Linked DNA regions of Homo sapiens: region 2 is linked to region 1. Evidence: fine-mapped expression QTL. A gene starts in region 1. The other region holds a variant in brackets. All regions are shown on one strand. Distances are between the middles of the regions. Region 1 holds the start of CDYL (chromodomain Y like). Region 2 has its middle 170 kb from the start of LINC02533.

Evidence for each region.
Region 2: its variant is fine-mapped to the expression of CDYL in skeletal muscle (GTEx, PIP 0.97).

What each region holds. Positions count from the first base shown.
Region 1 is chr6:4,772,295-4,780,888 of GRCh38, forward strand. CDYL (chromodomain Y like) reads left to right here and starts at 4,110. Exons shown (of 7, transcript NM_004824.4): 1 at 4,110-4,513. The coding sequence starts at 4,490. It overlaps CDYL-AS1 (CDYL antisense RNA 1), which reads right to left and starts at 3,132. Exons shown (of 2, transcript NR_183279.1): 1 at 2,978-3,132; 2 at 2,232-2,463. RefSeq lists enhancers at 325-876, 2,801-3,454 and silencers at 3,262-3,891, 3,912-4,461.
Region 2 is chr6:4,319,104-4,327,697 of GRCh38, forward strand. No RefSeq gene overlaps it. Among named protein-coding and RNA genes, the nearest start is that of LINC02533, 170 kb to the right of the region's middle. The variant T/C (reference allele first, on the strand shown) is at 3,962.

The sequences.
Region 1 (8,594 bases):
CTATATGAAAGAGAGAAATGGTACCTACCTGGGACCAACATGGAGGGCGGCAGGGAGAGGCTGCCCCTCGAAATGGGGAAACTGACTGTTTGGGCAGGGAAGGCAACAGTGACTGAAAAAAGGAATCAGCTGTTATTGGTTGACCAGAAAAAGGTACTGGTATCCACTCTAAGCTTTTAGGGAAGGAAGAACTGGTTGGCTCCCAGTTCAGACAAGGCCCCTAACATCTGAATTAATCTTATAAATGGTTCTGTATGCTTCTTTCTTTTGGGTCTCAGGTTTAAAATGTTCTTTCTTTTGAGTGGGTGATTGAGATGGAAATTCCACCAAGTTTTCTGGAGTAGATACTCTATGACAAGAACGGCATTTAATTTCCCTTCAGCCACTGTGGGTTTAAAACCAACAAACTTAGGTCGCATCTTCATAAAAATCACAATTAAATTTTGGGTTATGGAGGAGGTAACCAGGATAGAATATGCTTTGGGGGTACAAAACTGTTGAAGGGAATCATTATCAGTAGCTTTTCACAGCTACCCAACCATAAAACGCCTTTGGCTCTGAGAATAGTAGTAGCTAGATTTTGGCTTCTTTTGTTTTTTTCTGTCCCATCCCCCATCTCCCCTTGGATGCCTTTGGATTCAAATGTAGATGAAATGCAGATTCTTGGGAGAAAGGAAGACATGCCTGGTTTGGCTGGTGATTGGGAAAAGAGGAGGATCTCAGATTTCAGGTTTTAGTTATCATTCTCCCGAGATGGGAAGAGGCTGTGATTCTTGATCTGAAGAGTCTTATCGTCGGTAGAACTTGCCATCGATGATCAATTGTTTGGATTTGAGGAGGAGAGAATTGAATTATGTTGGCCTACAACAACGGGAGCAGGTCAGGTAAGAATCGTTTATTGCTGGTAGACGTGTCTTTTAATCATGTGTGTATATCGTCTCTCTTGTTGACCACTTCTCTAATCTTTTAAGAGTCATATGTCTTACTAGTGCATGGTATTGTGCTGTATGTATTTTTGCTGCAATCTTCCCGGTGTGCTTAGGGGATGTGATTTCACTTTTATTCTTAAGCCACTGAGAAAATAATAGCACCCACACACGTGGTCATGGAAACTACAGAACTTCACTGTTTCATAAAAGGTGGTGGAAATTCCAAGTCATTAAATAATCTTGGGCATATTTACTTCTGCTATGAGTGCTGGTAAAATGTTTATATAAAAAAGTGACGGAGGAAAGCAAAGTTTGCTTAAAAGTAAGACAAATTGAACGAATGAGGTTAAAATATATATGTATATATAAGCAAAATAGCATTCCATAAATCAGTGAGTTTTAAATGGAGGGCAGATGAAAGGAACAAAGTGGACAATTGAGAACTTCCTCAATTTCTCAGTCGCTAGGTGGATACCCATCTCCTTCGCCAGTGGAAGCCAACTGTCAGAGTGGAGAGGTGGTTGGAACTTAGGAGTATGGCTCACTCCTGCTTTGTTTTAGAGGCTACTGGTGGTTACTCTTAATGTTGTAGACTAAGGATAGCAGCATAAACATTCCAGATTGTCAAGATTGAAAAGCTACGTAAATTGACAAAGGTCTATGTAAATTGACATTTTTGAGTTGCCTTTTTGAGGCTATAATTCTTCCCCTTTTTGTTTCCACAATGGGGAAAATCGCCTTACTAGCTCAATATCTGGATATGTTTGTTGTGGATGTCTATGTTCCTTTCTTTCCCTCTCCTGGGCAACAATGGCAGTTTTGGAGACTCCTTGGAGACCACAGTACCATTACGCACATGGTGGAGCCCCTTGTGAATGCCTAAGCTTGTGGATGTTCTGAAGGGGGCAATAATTGGAGTAATGGTCATGGCGAGAAGTGCTTGTATTTGTATTGGTCCATCATTGCATAATAGGCTTATATGTTATATGTATCTATTTCCTATTGAGGATCTCTTTTTTACAGTTGATTTTTCTTGAGGGATTTTAAACTATCACCTGCCAGTATTTGAGCGCTTGCCGAAGTGTGCACTCAATGCTTTGAGATTTCCCAAATGTATAAAATCCTAGTCCTTGCCTTCAAGGAACTTACAACTTTTGTTGATAAATTGGTAAACCTAGAGAGAAGGCAACAATGAAATGCAGCATATAATGGAAATGCTAAGTGAGAGGAAAGAGGCGCTGTTTGGAGGAGGGAGAGGGAATTGGCTGGGCCATCAGGGAAAGAGGCAGAGCTTGAGGCGCCTTGACCAGTTGATGAAGTGGTGGCTTTAATTTGCGATTCTTGTGCAAACATTTGATAATGGGAATTGGATGTGTAGGTATTGGGCTTTCTCGTGGACACTGAAATTCCATTCATTGAACAACACCTTATTTCCTGTATAGAGAATGGTGCTAGGGGCCAGCGTCAAATTTGAAGATGAAGTCTGACTGAAGGTCATCGTTTGGAGTTGGGGTGGGGTGAAGAGTAGACAAACCTTAAAATACAGAGACGAGTGCTGCAGTGAGCACGCGTGAGTGCTTAGGCAGCGCTTGAAGAGGGAGTTACCGATTTGGCCCTGGAAGTCAGGAAGGCTATCCTTTTAAGGTGATCCCTGAGCTGGGAGTTTGTTTCAAACGGTGGGGACCGCAGGTAGAAGCACCGCTTAAGGGGAACGGCGATTCGACTCGCAGTGACTTAAGGGTTGGCGTGGTGCTTGTTCCTGGGCGTGGGGAGGACAGGAAACCGCGGGGTCTGTGAGACGCCCCGTGGTTGTTGAAACGCTGTTGGGGGGCACAAACGAATAGGGCTTTAGGAAGAAAACTGGTGGGAGGAGCCTTGTGGCTCCAAGGTAGGTTAGGAACTGGAGCGAGATGGAGCACGGAGGAGTGAGGCGGCCCGAAGGATGCCCGGGGAGACATGGAGGAACTGGCGAGGGCTTCCCGATGCAGGGCCTGGGGGAGAGGGTGAACTAATGCCTCTGCAGTGCCCCGTGGGGAAGTTCCGCATACTCGGCCAGAGTGATCGGAGTTGGCGGCTGTCTGGGGGAGTTGGGTCAGGAAGCCCCTTCTTTCGCCACCGATGGGGCACGTCCAGGGCCCGGCAGGTGTGCCCTGGCAGTAGATCTTCCCTGGGAAGTGGAGCGCGGGCCAGCCCTCGCTGTTCTGAGCGAGGGCCTGTCGTGTAGTCCACACCGTTCCGCGAAAGGAACCACCATTGACAGCCTCGTTCGATTAGAACCCGGACCTCCCTGGAATCCAGACTCGGTCCCTTCCCAGCTGCGCTTCGGAGGAGGCGGACGCTCCGAGAGGAACCCAGAGGCCTGGCGTGGGGGGAGCTGCGGGCAGAGCGGAGGCAGCCGCGCCCTCGCGCCGCCCTCCGCCGCGCCCGGCTCCCGCCCCCCGGATCCCACCCCCGGCCTGCCGCGGAGCCAGCGTGCCAGCCGGAGCTCGCCGGGCCACCCCGCGGGGCGCGCGGCCCGGGCTCCGGGTCTTGGCGGCGGCCGGTGGGGCGGGCATGGGGTGGGGTGGGTGCTCCACCTGGCCACGCCGCCGGCCCTTCGCGGGCTGGCCCGGCCCCGGACGGGCGGGCGCACGGAGGCCGCCTCTTGGGCTCCTCCTGGAGGGAGGCGCGCGGTAGACGGCGCGGCCGCTGCCGTCGGGGCGGTGGGCTCCAGACGCGGGCCGGCTCGCTCGCATGGTTCCCTGCCCCATCTCGGGTCCGTCGCTGCCCGTCCTGGTGTGCACAACCGCGCTGCGCCTCGAACCTCGAGGTCCAGGTCCCGCCTGCCCTGGGCCGGGCCGCAAGCGCCCACGTCGAGGCGGGCTGGGGGGCGGTGCCGCGGGCCAGGCCGACCCCGCAAGCGGGACTGGGGAAGTCGGAGCCCCGCCCACCACCCCGCCCCCCGCGCTCGCGGCCCCGCCCCCGACTGCCCCGCTCCTCCCCTTCCTGCCGGCTCGCTCCCGGCCCCGCCGGCCGCCCGCCTCGGCCCCGAGCGGAGCCCACTGCTCCCCTCGGCTGCCCCGCCCCGCCGCCGCCCCGCCCCTCCCGCGCGGGCGGCCCGAAAACCCGGAGCGCGGGAGCGCGGCTCCGCAGGGCCGGGCGGCCGCACTGGGCATGCTCAGTAGCCGGGGCAGGTTTTTTGGTCGCAAGTAGGAAGCTTTCTGCACTACACCGGAGAGGGGAGCCGCGATCCGGCCGCGCCGCCCGCACGCCGCCGCGCCCGCCCCAGCCCGCCCGGCCCCGCGGCGGGGCGCGATGAGCCCGAGCGCGAGCCGGCCCGCCGGGGAGTGAGCGCGGGGCGCCCAGGGCGCGTTGCGTAGCTGCTCCTGCGCACAACCCCGCCGCGCCGCCGGCCCGCACTGGCCGCGGAGTGCAAGAGGCTCGTCCGTGCCCAGCGCCCGGCCGGCCGCGGGAGCAGGAAGCGCAGGCCACGCAGGACCCAACTGAAACAAAGTGTCGGCCGCCCGGCGCCGGCGCCCGCCCCGACCCTGCCCCTCCCGCCCGCAACTCCGCCGCCCACCATGGCTTCCGAGGAGCTGTACGAGGTACCTCCCCTCCCCCCGGCCTCGGGCCGCCCCCCGCCCGCCGCCCCTCCCGGCCCGGCCGCGCCGCCCGACGGCCCCGCTCGCCGCCCGCGCCCGCCGCGTCCCCTCCCCCGCCGCGGCCGCAGTTTGCTGGACGGGAAATGTGTGTGAGGGGAGCCCGAGCCTCCGTTCCGAGGGGCCCCGGCCGGGGGGTCCTGAAGTTGCCGGGCGTGGGGTGGGGGGGGGGGTCCCAGCCGTGGGGAAGTGGTGCTGACACAAGTGACTTGCTCGGACTGAGCTCAAAGTGCTCTTGGCGTGGGTCGTGGAAGTGGTGCCTCCGTTGCCGCTCGGCGGGGACCGTGGGCGGTACGGGGGGTGGGGTGTGGGGGGGTTTCTGGATCATTTGATAAAGCATTTGGGAGAGGGTTTTGCCCCTGGTCGGGGGGTGGCGGGGAGAAGACCGGTGCAAACGCTTTCGACTTTGCTGTTCGCCAAAGCGATGCAAAATCTCGCACCGAAAATGCTAAACGTTGACCACATGCTTTAATTAGGTTAGCATTGTGGCCAGAGCCAGGAAATTTAAATTTAACGCTGATACACCGTCATTCATTTGCGCCGCAGCGTTGCAAATGAGAAGGGCATAGCCAGAACTGTAAGTTCTGGTCGATGGGTTTAAACCAGCTTCAAGTTTGAGAGTTACCAATTTGGATCTTTAGACATGTTTTGTATGTCTCCATGTAACTTCTTTTGACGTATTTCAAAGTAGACTTCCTGGGAGTACAGAAGTTTGGAAGGCTTTCTGTTCTTCTGGATAAATGATTCTCTTGTTTCACATGTATTTATAAATAAGTTCCTAAGAGACTTAAAACTTGCGAAGACTCTCTAGACTCACCTTTATGATGCGTTTAGGGACCTGGGTGTTGAGGGACTTAAGGAAGCATCTGTAACAAGTAGAGCCCTGTGGCCCCAGGGATCCTTTCAGTTGTCTTCTCTTATGGGCGTATTATTGCTGTTGGCATAGAATAGAGCTTTGTTGTCTGCGATGTTAGTCTTCTAGCAACTTTTTTGTTGCTTTTTAAGAGCAAGTGTTTGCAGAAGTTCTCAGGAGGAAGCTGCCATCTGTAGAATTAAGGGTAAGGTTGTTGCTTCTCCTTACATTGTATGTGGTCAGTATACCTTAGCTGGTACTGAAAATGTTCCATTCTTTTCAACCATTTTACACATTAGCTGTGCCCCGCTGTATTCAGGATACTATTTTAGGTCATTTGGGGATGTAAAAGAAGAAAAATCTCCCTGTTCTCAGGAGCTTTCCTTCTAGGAAGGAAAGTGTTGTGTGTCTGGAAGACACAGAAATGGAGGCTAGGATGTTTGAGGTTGAGGTCTTCCAGGTGAAGTCTGTACAGGGGGAAGTACATAGCATGAGGGTATGGGGGATTTTAGTTTCTACATTAGATCATTCTTTGGTTGTTTAGTCATGAGTGTTCACTCTTGGCATTTGCTTTTATGAGTATGATTACATAATCAGTTCCATCAGTGGATGAGAGTAGCACCTTATACGTAAGTTGTATCCTATGTGTGTAAGAATGATTCTGAAGACAGCACATTTCCCATTAGTATATTATGAACTAAGTTTAGTTCCTTCTGTGCTTATTCTATATCTTCAGGTTTCTGTTCCTAACAGAAGTTATTAATGAGTAACATTTTGTACTAAGTTTGTGTTCATTTAACGTTTATTGAATGCTTGCCATATGGAGGTTTCATGGGGAAATACTGAGGTGTGAGAATGGTTCATGCTTTCAAGGAGTGTCTGTTGGGGAGGAAGTAAGTATATTGCAAATAAATGATACACCTGCACAATTGAACTTTTGATTCTGAGTTTTATTTTAGTTTTGGAAAAAAAGGTATTATAGAAGTATAGTTCAGGTGATAAATTTAAGTATGTGTAGTAAATATGTAGTGGTCAGTATCTTTCAAGGCAAAATTTGTAACTTTTCTTTTACTTGTAGGCAACACTGTGACTATGTTACCATTGAAAGTTGACATTGAAAGTTTTGCATGGCAGTTGAGAGCCTAGATTTGGAGTCAGACAACCCAGTTAGTGACTTCCAACTCTATCACCTTGGGTAAATTAGCCTTGAAAGCTCAGTTTCCTCATCTGTGAAATTGGGATCAGTGTTTCCCTTATAGAGCTATGAAGTTTACATGAGAACATATGTAAAGCCCACCCTAAAATTCCCATGGCAAGCACCCAGTAAGTGATGATGATTGTATGGTAACTGGCTTAAAATGCCTCCCTGAAACCTGGTTTTGTTTCTAAAGGTATAGAGTTGTATTGTTTTCATAAAGGCAGTATTATCTGTAGGGCAGAAGTGATACGCAATTGTAAATGAACGCGATAGTCTGACAAGGCTGGGAAAGACACTAAGATGATGTTTTGTGGCCAAGTCAAGGGTTGTTAGTTGCCTTGTTTTGTCCAGTTCTGCCTAAACTGAAATAGAAGTTTTCTGTTTGGCCTCAGGCTCCACAAATCTAGAGGGATATATTGACAGGAGGAAATGTGAAGTCTTGCTTCTTTGAACTCACATGGTCTGGTAGGAGGACAGGTCTGCAGTAACTGGGAACTTGGGTGAGTTACCCAACTGCTGAGCCTTGGTTTTCTCGCCTAAAAGAAATGTCTCCAATACTTAGCATGGAACCTGGTATGTAGTAATAGGTCTTTAGTAAATGTTTAAATGGCTATTGAAACTAGGCTTTGTGAACAAAAAATAAAGGAACAGATCCTGGAAAAGATGGGTAGAGCATGAACCTTGCAAAATTTGAAGAGTTACTATTAGTTGAAGGATGGAATAGATTTACTCCCTACTTTTCCAGCTGCTAGGATTGAGGAAAAACGGATTTTTGATGCGGCGTAGGTTAGAACTTCATAGTTTTCACAAAAAGACAAGCGTCCTTTACATCACGCTTCTAATGTAAAGGGCCAGATAATACATATTTTAGACTTGTGGGTTATATTATGGTCTTTGTTGCAACCACTCAGCTCACCTCATGTAGTGCAAAAGCAGTCGTAGACTCCTATATGAATGTGCGCTGTGTCTCAAACTGCTTATGGATAGTAAAATTCACTTAGTATATTTCATATCATTTTATGTGTCATGAAATACACATTTGTGTTTTTTTTCCAATCACTTACAAATGTAAAAATGATTCCTAACTTGTAGGTTCCACAAAAATAGGCAGTGGGCTGGCTTTGCCCTGTAGGTTGTTGTTTGTTAAGCCCTGCTGTAGGTGATCAACTGTCATAGTCTGTTTAGGAATCTGGGTTTACTCAAGGGTTGGGGATGTATGGAAGTTAGACGGTATTTCTAACTTTCATCCCAGCTCTAGACTTAGAGCTGGAAGATCTGGGTGGTAATCCTCCCTCCTTTCCTCCTTCCTTTCCTTTCTTTCTTTCTCTTTTTTTTTTTCAAGAGTCTTGCTCTATCTCCCAGGCTGATGTGCAGTGGCTTCATGTTGTCAGCTCACTACAACCTCTGCCTCCCGGGTTCAAAGCTATTCTCATGCCTCAGCCTCCTGAGTGGCTGGGATTACAGACGTGCACCACCCCCGCCTACGCCCCCCCCCCCCCGCCCCCGCCCCCGCCCCGGCTAATGTTTTGTATTTTTAGTAGAGACAGGGTTTCACCTTGTGGGCCAGGCTGGTCTCAAACTCCTGGTCTCAAGTGATCCGCCCACCTTGGCCTCCCAAAGTGCTGGGATTACAGGCATGAGTCACTGCACCCGGCCTTCCCTTGTTCTTAGAAGCTTGTTAAGTAACTCATCTTGTACTTGTCTTAACTATCCTAAACTTTCTCATCAGTAAAATAGGAGGATGATAACCAAATAATTGAGGCTTAAATGGCATTAGCGTGTAAAAGCAATTCTACAAAACGTTTTCCATTTTTAAAGAGGAAAAAAAACCCATCCAACTCTCAAACCATGAAACCAAACCTGTTTTCCCTTCCTCAAGATTTAGGATTTGAAAGTATTCTATAAACTGATTATATCACCAGAGAAAGCTGTGAGGTCAAGAGGACCTTAATTTATTTAGCAGTCAAGTAACCACC
Region 2 (8,594 bases), 450 kb before region 1:
ATAAAAATTTTGGTTAGCTCAAAAAAGAAGTAAAATACAGTATCTAGAGAGCAACAGCACAAAAGAGAAAACAAGCAAATATTCCTGGATGTTTCTTTCTCACCGTATCACCCTGAGTACGTTATTTAACCACTCTGAGTCCCAGTTTCCTCATCTGTAAAACGAGTCTCTCTACAGGAATTTTGTGAGGATCAACAAACAAAAAAGCTTCTGCTGATTCGTGAGGATGCTAATGTCAAACACCATGCACACTCACCACAGCCTAAAACCTTTTCTAAGAGCTTCACAGGTATGATCTCATCTAGTCTTCCAAACAAAACTGTGAAGGAAGTTCCTTCCTCATTTGAAAGAGAAGACTGAGGCACAGACCCTCAGCTAAACCAACAGGTGGCATGCTTGGATTTGAACCTTGCTAGTTGCTCTTGCTCCTTAGTCTGTGTTAAGTACCTCCCTTCCTCACCATCCTATGTTGCAGTAGCTCCTCTTTCTTTTCTTCTTCTTTTTTTTTTTTTTTTTTTTGACTGAGTCTTGCTCTGTCGCCCAGGCTGGAGTGCAGTGGTGCCATGTAGACTCACTGCAACCTCCACCTCCAGGGTTCAATTGATTCTCATGCCTCAGCCTCCTGAGTAGCTGGGATTACAGGTGCAGGCCACCATGCCCGGCCAATTTTTGTATTTTTAGTAGAGACAGGGTTTCACCATGTTGGCCGGGCTGGTCTTGAACTCCTGACCTCAAGTGATCCACCTGCCTCAGCCTCCCAGAGTAGCTCCTCTTTTGACTATTTCACAGGTGCAATGCTCATTCTGACAATTCAAAAGAAATTTGGTTGGCTAAATTGGGCTCTATGCAATTGGGAAGTATCACTGGATTTGACATATCTAGGCTCAGTTCATTGTTAGCAAACGTAATTGATACACACTGAGATCTTGTGATCCAAGCCTGAGAACTACAAACATTAAATCCACAAATGTATTTCAAAGTTCAAATTTTACATTAGTGAAACAAGGAAATATAAGTGTCATAACACAATGGCAGCTTTCCAAGAATGAATATTTTATTGGTGGGGAAAATTGGCCTTTTGGGTCACCTTACTTTAGCTCTTCAAGGATGTACAACTATATAAAATTGACCTTATGTTGTGGTATTGAACAGCTGGGCTATGGAATATTTTAAACCAGCGTTTAAAAATAATCCCATAGAGTGGGAACTGATGCAATCCTAAGGGGAAAGAAAGCTTTGGAGGAGTGTCTGGCTTCCTCTTTTCCTCTTGGCTTGAAACCGACAGGCAGATCTTATCTACTCTGGTTGATTTTCTAGCATTAGGACTTTATGCAAATGGATCGGGGCCTTGTATCCTGAGAGGGAAAGTGGTTCACTGGAAATGTTTTGGCAATCACAGATTCTTCCAGGTGCCTGCCTGAGAATGATTTTCTTACATTGAGAATTTTCTTCCAACTGGGCACAGATGACAGAAGTCTGGACTTGTTTGGAAATATGATCCTATCAGTTCTCAGACATTTTTAGAATATCTACCCAACCCCAGCCTTTCAGCACCCCTGTAATGATCATATTGATTTCATACTTCTAAGTTTTGGGATGTTAAAAATAGGAAGGACTTGAAACCCTTATTGTGGGATTTACTGTTTATTCCTGTTATCTCCTAACTTGGGTTAACATGGATTCTGATGAGAATAATGAAAAGTGAATAGTTTAACCATGTTTAGAAGAGTATTCATTTATTAGACATGCTGCTAAATGTGTCTGATCTCACAGAGATTAATTACTCTTTCTCAGTATTCCTCTTTCTCATGCACACATTCACTTACAAGTTCAGGCTGTCATGTTTTTGCCATTTTCTTGCCGGTGCCTTGCAATCCTAATAAAATGTTTACTAGGTAGCATTTCTCTGGATACAGTGTTGAGCTGAGAACTGACTTGAACATGAATCATGATAATGTTTCTTACTGTTTACATAGCAATGAAGATTATCAGGATGAATGGAGAGAAGCCAACCACCCTCTTTATTCATCACAAAGTCATTCAGCCCTGTTATTTCTCATGCTGAGAGATTTATTGGTAATTTTGCTGCAGATAAGTTGTCTTGAAGGGAGCAAAAACTTTCAGGAATTGAGGTGCTTCTGAATCAGAGAAAACTATGATACGTCATTAACTCTGATACTGAATTATATAGAAGAAATGCAAAAGACTCATAAGCACTTAGAAAAACAGTAATCAGTGTGTGTTGATTATCTCAGCCACGGTATACCTTTTTTTCCACCACACATTTCCGGGGTGATTTGCACTGTATTTTCATATTTAACATTAGGGAAAAGTGTGTTGTGGGTGCTATGGACATGTATTAGCATATTTTAAGATGGTTTATTTGGGCTTTTTTTTTTAACCTAATAAATCCAGTTCATGTGCACACAACATCACTCATGTTTGCTGCTTTTGAAGTAAATTTCATTTTAATTCTTCCAATCAGTCGAAACATTTGAAAAAAAAATAACATGAAAGTTTTGAGCTCGGGAAAGGTTTTTGTTATCATTTTTGTTTTTTTACATTGATCTTAGGTCATTGAGTAGATAATAGGAATACATTTGCTAATGAAGATGAGACGTCAACTGTCCGATATAGTCATCAATCAAATGTCTGGCTCAGAATCAAGACACAGACCCTTCCATCTCCCTACCTGTTTCCCCAGCAGACCTGCAGCAACCCAGATGGTGTTTTTGGACTATTTTATAAATGTGTAATTCATAGAAGTCTACTAATGATCTATTATTTTATACTAGTGGCCAACCTTGGAATTTAGTGTGTAATTTCTGCAGGCCACAATGAATGATTTCTGACAAGAGGTTGTTGTGTTGAAGGAGAAAGAGCAAAGGAAATCTTTCAGAACAATTAGTAGGTTAAGTTACTTGGCTCCCAGTTTGAGATTGAGAAATAATTTTTTAAGTTTTTTCCCTGTCCCATTCCCTCTTTGTGACCTAAAAAACCCCCAATAGCCAGAGAATAAAGACAAAGAGCAAGAGGACTCCTTGTAAGTGCTCCCCCAGAGCAAGTTATCAATTGCTAAATTGGTAGGAGGCATGTGTGCTTTGCACAATCCACTCAACCTGACACTGAGAAACAGGGACCAGATGTTGAGCCAGGGTTTGGGCTCAAGTGCTTAGGTGGCTGGATGTGCACTTTCCATTAAGTCCAAAAGCCTGCTTGAGGAAGTGACCAAGTTGACTGCTCAATCTTGACATCTATTTGAGAATTTATTGGAAAGACCACGGGCAAATACACTTTGTCTGAGAAGCTGTTCCTGTACAGTGGGTTGGAAAGACCCAACTGGAATGTCATTTTCCATGATCTGACCATTTTATACGTCTTCCTCCATGAATAGGAATTTTCGAAAATCATTGGCTACTTCCAACTGCACAACTGTGTGAAGGCCTTGCTGCCAGCACTGAGCATAGGTGTGAGTGTCCAAAGAACAGTATTCTAGTCCCAGGTCTGCCACTAACTCACTTTGACACTTGGCTAGTCTCTGATTTTCTTTGGCCTCGTTTCCTCAGCTGTAAAATCCGGAGGCTGAACTAGAAAGTTCTGCTCTTGCTCTGTGCTTCCAGCATTTCCTACCTTCGATTACACCAGCCAAGAGTTCTTGACAAAAGCCCAGTGCTCCAGCTCCCCTATCCCCAGCAGCTTCTTTGCCTTTCCATTGGGAAGTTTGGCTTTTAAGCCTGAAACAACGTATCAGATCATAATGCTGCTGGATCATCTGAATTATCCATGGCTCCTTATTGCCTGCAGAAAACAAACTTCCTCCATTGTCATGTAAAGTCCCATGAACTGACACCCCACCCCCAGCTTTCCAACCTTATCTTTATTCTTGTTCCTCCAGACTGGCCTGCTCATATTGCCCCAAGCACATTACATCATCTCTGTCTCTGCTTCTTTGATTTCAGTA[T/C]TCAGTGTTCCTGGAATCTTCCTTGTCTTTCTTTCCCAACCCTGTAGGGCAGCACTATGGGACCCAGCCCCACCTTGGCTTCAGTAGAGCTGCTGTTGACTGTTGCATTGATTTATAATCCAATTTCAACTTTTATTCAAGCAAAAAGATTCAAGACAAAAGTTAGTTTGGAATTCAGTAAATACAATGATTATGGACAAGCACCAGCTGTTGGCTCTTTCCCAGGATCTCTACCCAAGAAGCCAGAAGATATTGATGGTTCCCAGAATCTAGTGCAAAAATCATGAGAAATCTTTGGGAAGATGAAATAGAGTGGTTCCAGGTGCAGTGGAAAACATAGAGTGAGAGAGAGCCTGGTATTGAGGAATGAATTTTGAGAAAACTTTCTAGTTATATCTCTCCACCTCTGGCCCTCCCCCTCAACCACATTACTACTCACGCTTTTATGGGGAAATGGATGGTAAGGAAAACAGCAGCAGCAGCTTAGAGCCAGCCAAAGGCAAGAGGCGAAAATTAGGGAAGGCCCAGAGACTGGCTGGGTAAGGAGTGAAAGAGTAACAACAGTGAGAGGATCAGGAAGATCCTGAGAATTCTTTTTTTCTTCATCCTGGATGCCACTCCTGTGTTATCAGTTGCATTCTATGTAGCAGATCTTGGAAGACAGATCTACCTAGCAGCAGGTTTACCTGTGGCAAATAAGTGGGGAGGAGTTGCTGAACCCAGATTGTAAAGCCAGAAGATCCTTCCAAGTCCATATCCCTTCTACTCATTCTGAAATCCAGAATGTATTTAGAATTAGAAGTATTTACTTAGGGGTATGGGCTTTTTTAAAAAAAAGTCAGGGGCTGGGCGCAGTGGCTCACGCCTGTAATCCCAGCACTTTGGGAGGCTGAGGCAGGTGGATCACCTGAGGTCAGGAGTTCAAGACCAGCCTGGCCAGCATAGTGAAACCTCATCTCTACTAAAAATACAAAAAATTAGCTGGGCGTGGTGGCAGGCGCCTGTAATCCCAGCTACTCAGGAGGCTAAGGCAGGAGAATTGCTTGAACCTGGGAGGCGGAAGTTGTGGTGAGCTGAGATTGTGCCATTGCACTCCAACCTTGGCAACAAGAGCGAAACTCCATCAAAAAAAAAAAAAAAAGAGGCAGATTTATTGAACTATAATGTGTATAAAATTTACTTGTTTTCAGTGTTGAGTTTTGACAAGTGGGTGTATTAGTGTAACTACCATCACAATCAAGACACAACAATTTTTTCAGTTCAAGAAGTTCACTAATGACCCTTTACAGAATTCCCGTACCAATACCCCACCCTAGTACCTTTCCCCAGAAAGATAGATCTGTTCTTTATCATCGTCGTTTTGCCTTTTCTACAATTTTATATAAATAGAATCATATGGTAGTGAAAGAAGTAGTCTAGCTTCTTTCACTAAGTGTGATGCATTTGAGATTCATCATGGCATTGAATGTATCAGTCGTTTGTTCCTTCATATTGCTGAATATTGCATGAATATCCCAAAAGTCATTTAGTCATTCACTGGTTGATGGACATTGGAGTTGCTTATAGTTTTTGGCTATTACAAATAAAGCTGCTATACACACTCATGTACAATATTTTCTTTTTCTTGGGTAAATACCTAGAAGTAGCATTGCTGGGTCATATGGAAAATGTAGGTTTAATTGTATTACAGAGTGCTAAACTGATTTTCTACAGTGACTGTACCACTTTGCAGTCCCAACAGCAATGTTTGAGAGTTCCTAGTCAACACTTGGTATGGTCAGTTTTATTTTTTTTTTAACTTTAGACATTCTAGTAGTATGTATTAGTAACATATGGTTTCAACTTGCATTCTTTTTAATAACTAATGATGTTGTGGATCTTTTTGTGGTTTTTTTTTGCCATCATATATTTTATTTGGTAAAATTCCTGTTCAAATATATTTTCTATTTTTAATTGGGTTATTTGTCTTCTTATTCTGAGTTCCAAGAATTCTTTCTATATTCTAAAGATAAATACCTTATAATGTGTATGTTATTCAAATATTTTTCTCCCAGTCTGTGGCATGCATTTTTATTTTCTTAACAATATCTTTCAAAGTTTTCAAGTTTTTTATTTTGATGAAGTCCAATTTGTGTTTTTTCTTTTATGTTTATACTTTTTCGGGCCATAACTAAGAAATATCTGCCTAACTTCAGGTTACAAAGATTTTCCCCTATATTTTTTTTCTAGAAAGTTTATAGTTTTAAGTTTTACTTTTAGGTATTTGACCTATTTTGAATTAATATTTTTATATGGCGTGAGATAAGTGTTGATGCTCATATTTTTCTATATGAATAGCCAGTTATTACAGCACCATTTGTTGAAAAAAAGACCCTGTTATTTCCCTATTGAAATACCTTGGCAGCTTTGTGTATGGTCTATTTCTAGACTTTCTATTTTGTTCCACTAGTCCACATGTTTATCCTTACACAATGACCAAATTGTCTTGATTATTGTAGCTTTGGATTAAGTCTTAAAATTAGGCAGTGTAAGTCTCCCAACTTTGTTCTTTTTCAAAATTGCTTTGACTATCCAAGCTAGATTTTTTACCTTTCATATAAATTTTAGAAGCAGTTTGTTAATTTATATATTAAAAAATTTGAAATTTTGATAGAAATTATATTCAATCTATAGGTCAATTTTGGGGGAAGTGGATATCATAATAACATTAAAGTCTTCCAATGCATGAACATGGTGTAGCTGTCCATTTAAATTAGGTCTTTAATTTCTTCAGTGACTTTTCATAGTTTTCAGTGTACAGGTTTTTTGACCTCTTTTGTCAAATATTTCATGTTTTGGATGCCACTGGAAATCCATTTTGAAAATTTTGACTTCTAATTTTTTTGTTGCTAGAAGATAGGACGTGCAGGCAGATAAGCATAAAGGACTGACATTTTTAATGTTTGAAATAACTGACTGCAGAGGCTCTAGAGCATGCATTCTCAATGGGAAAAATATTGTTCCCAAGGGGATGGAAAAATCTTACTCTTTTAATGTCTAAATCATAGATATACATTTACGTAAGCCAATGCATAAAAGTGTATACATTATATCTGCCATATTAAAATCTTATGCAATGGAGTAATTATAAAAAAATGTTTAAAATACTCCTTAGGGGAGCAATAATTTAAAAACCATTGGGAAACACTGGTTGTTCATAGCTCTTGGGATATATGATACTAAAAGAATACAAGTACTTTGAGTATTTGGGTACTTAATCTCTGTAAATTTCTTATACATTGATCACATTCAGGCTTAGTAAATAGATTTAAATAAGACCTAAGTCAAGACCACATGATTCCCAGAAAAATTAGTTAATACAAATTATAAACAAATTTTAAATGTTGAGCAGCAAGAATTTTAGGTCAGTGAATGCTGGATTTTGTCATATTCCTTTAAAGAGTGTTGGACTGTGTTCTTCCTGCAGTTACATTACTTGCAGATCAGACTGATCCTTTTGAGGCTTGCTTTTCAGGCTTATAAGGGTAGATCCAGAGCAGCCCTTACTCTAAGGCTAACAGTCTCACTACTAAGGTGTGGCCCTTCTAAGGACTCTCCCTATCCAATGCCCTGTGTATTGTGAGGTCTCTTATAATTGATGGGATTGCAAACTCTCCCCAGCCCTGTGAGAACTCCGGGAATTGTTCAACCTATTGCTTCTCAGTGGTTCTTTCTCTGGTGTTGTGGATTTTCCTTCCATGCATGCTCAGATCACAATTTGGCCAAAGACGCCAGGGGACTCCTCTGTTCTCTTAAGCCCTCACTCCATGTAGCTACCACTGCTCCAGGCATCCACCCAGCCAATTCTAGGTGCTTCTGCTTTCTCAAGTTCTGATCTCTACTCCTCACTAGGTAAGACTGCTGGGAATTATTGGGTTTTCCTCCTTGCACTGTAACCTAGAAACGGCTGCCAGGTAGGAAGCTGGTACAAGTGCAGGGCTCACTTCATTTGTCTTTGTTCTCACTGGAGTCATAGTCTTGTGCTGCCTGTGGTTCAACGTCTGAAAACAGTTGTTTAATAGATTTTGTTTTCCAATTTTCTAATGATTTATGGTCGGAGGGCAATTGCCAGCTTTGATAGAACCAAGGAAATATGAGCTCAGAGGAAAAGATAATGACACATTTGAAGAGCACAAATACCATAAAGAAACACAATACACTGAACAAATTATACCAGGCAAATAAGAATTAATTGACCAAAAAGAGAAAACAATTAAAATAGCTTTTACATAGCTTCAAGTAGCCAAGAAAGGATATTCAACATGAAGGTAGAATAATAATTTGAGAAGAACCAACTGAAGTTATTGGGTTTGAGAAAAACAATTTGGTTCCTTCTGAAAGTATTGCAGACCAGATATGCTGAAAAGCTCCCCATGGAAAGCATCTGGATGCTGGATATATTTTTAAATGTTTTAAAATACAATACTGAATCCATAAGTGAGTAAGTCTAGCCTATACTTTCTGCCTCCCTCAACAAATAGAGAGTTGAAACAAGTATAGTCAATGAAGCTGGAAATGAAGGCTGCCCTCATTAGGATGTAATCTCTGTGAGGCAGGGATTTCTGATTATTTTATTTCCTGATAAAGCACAGCC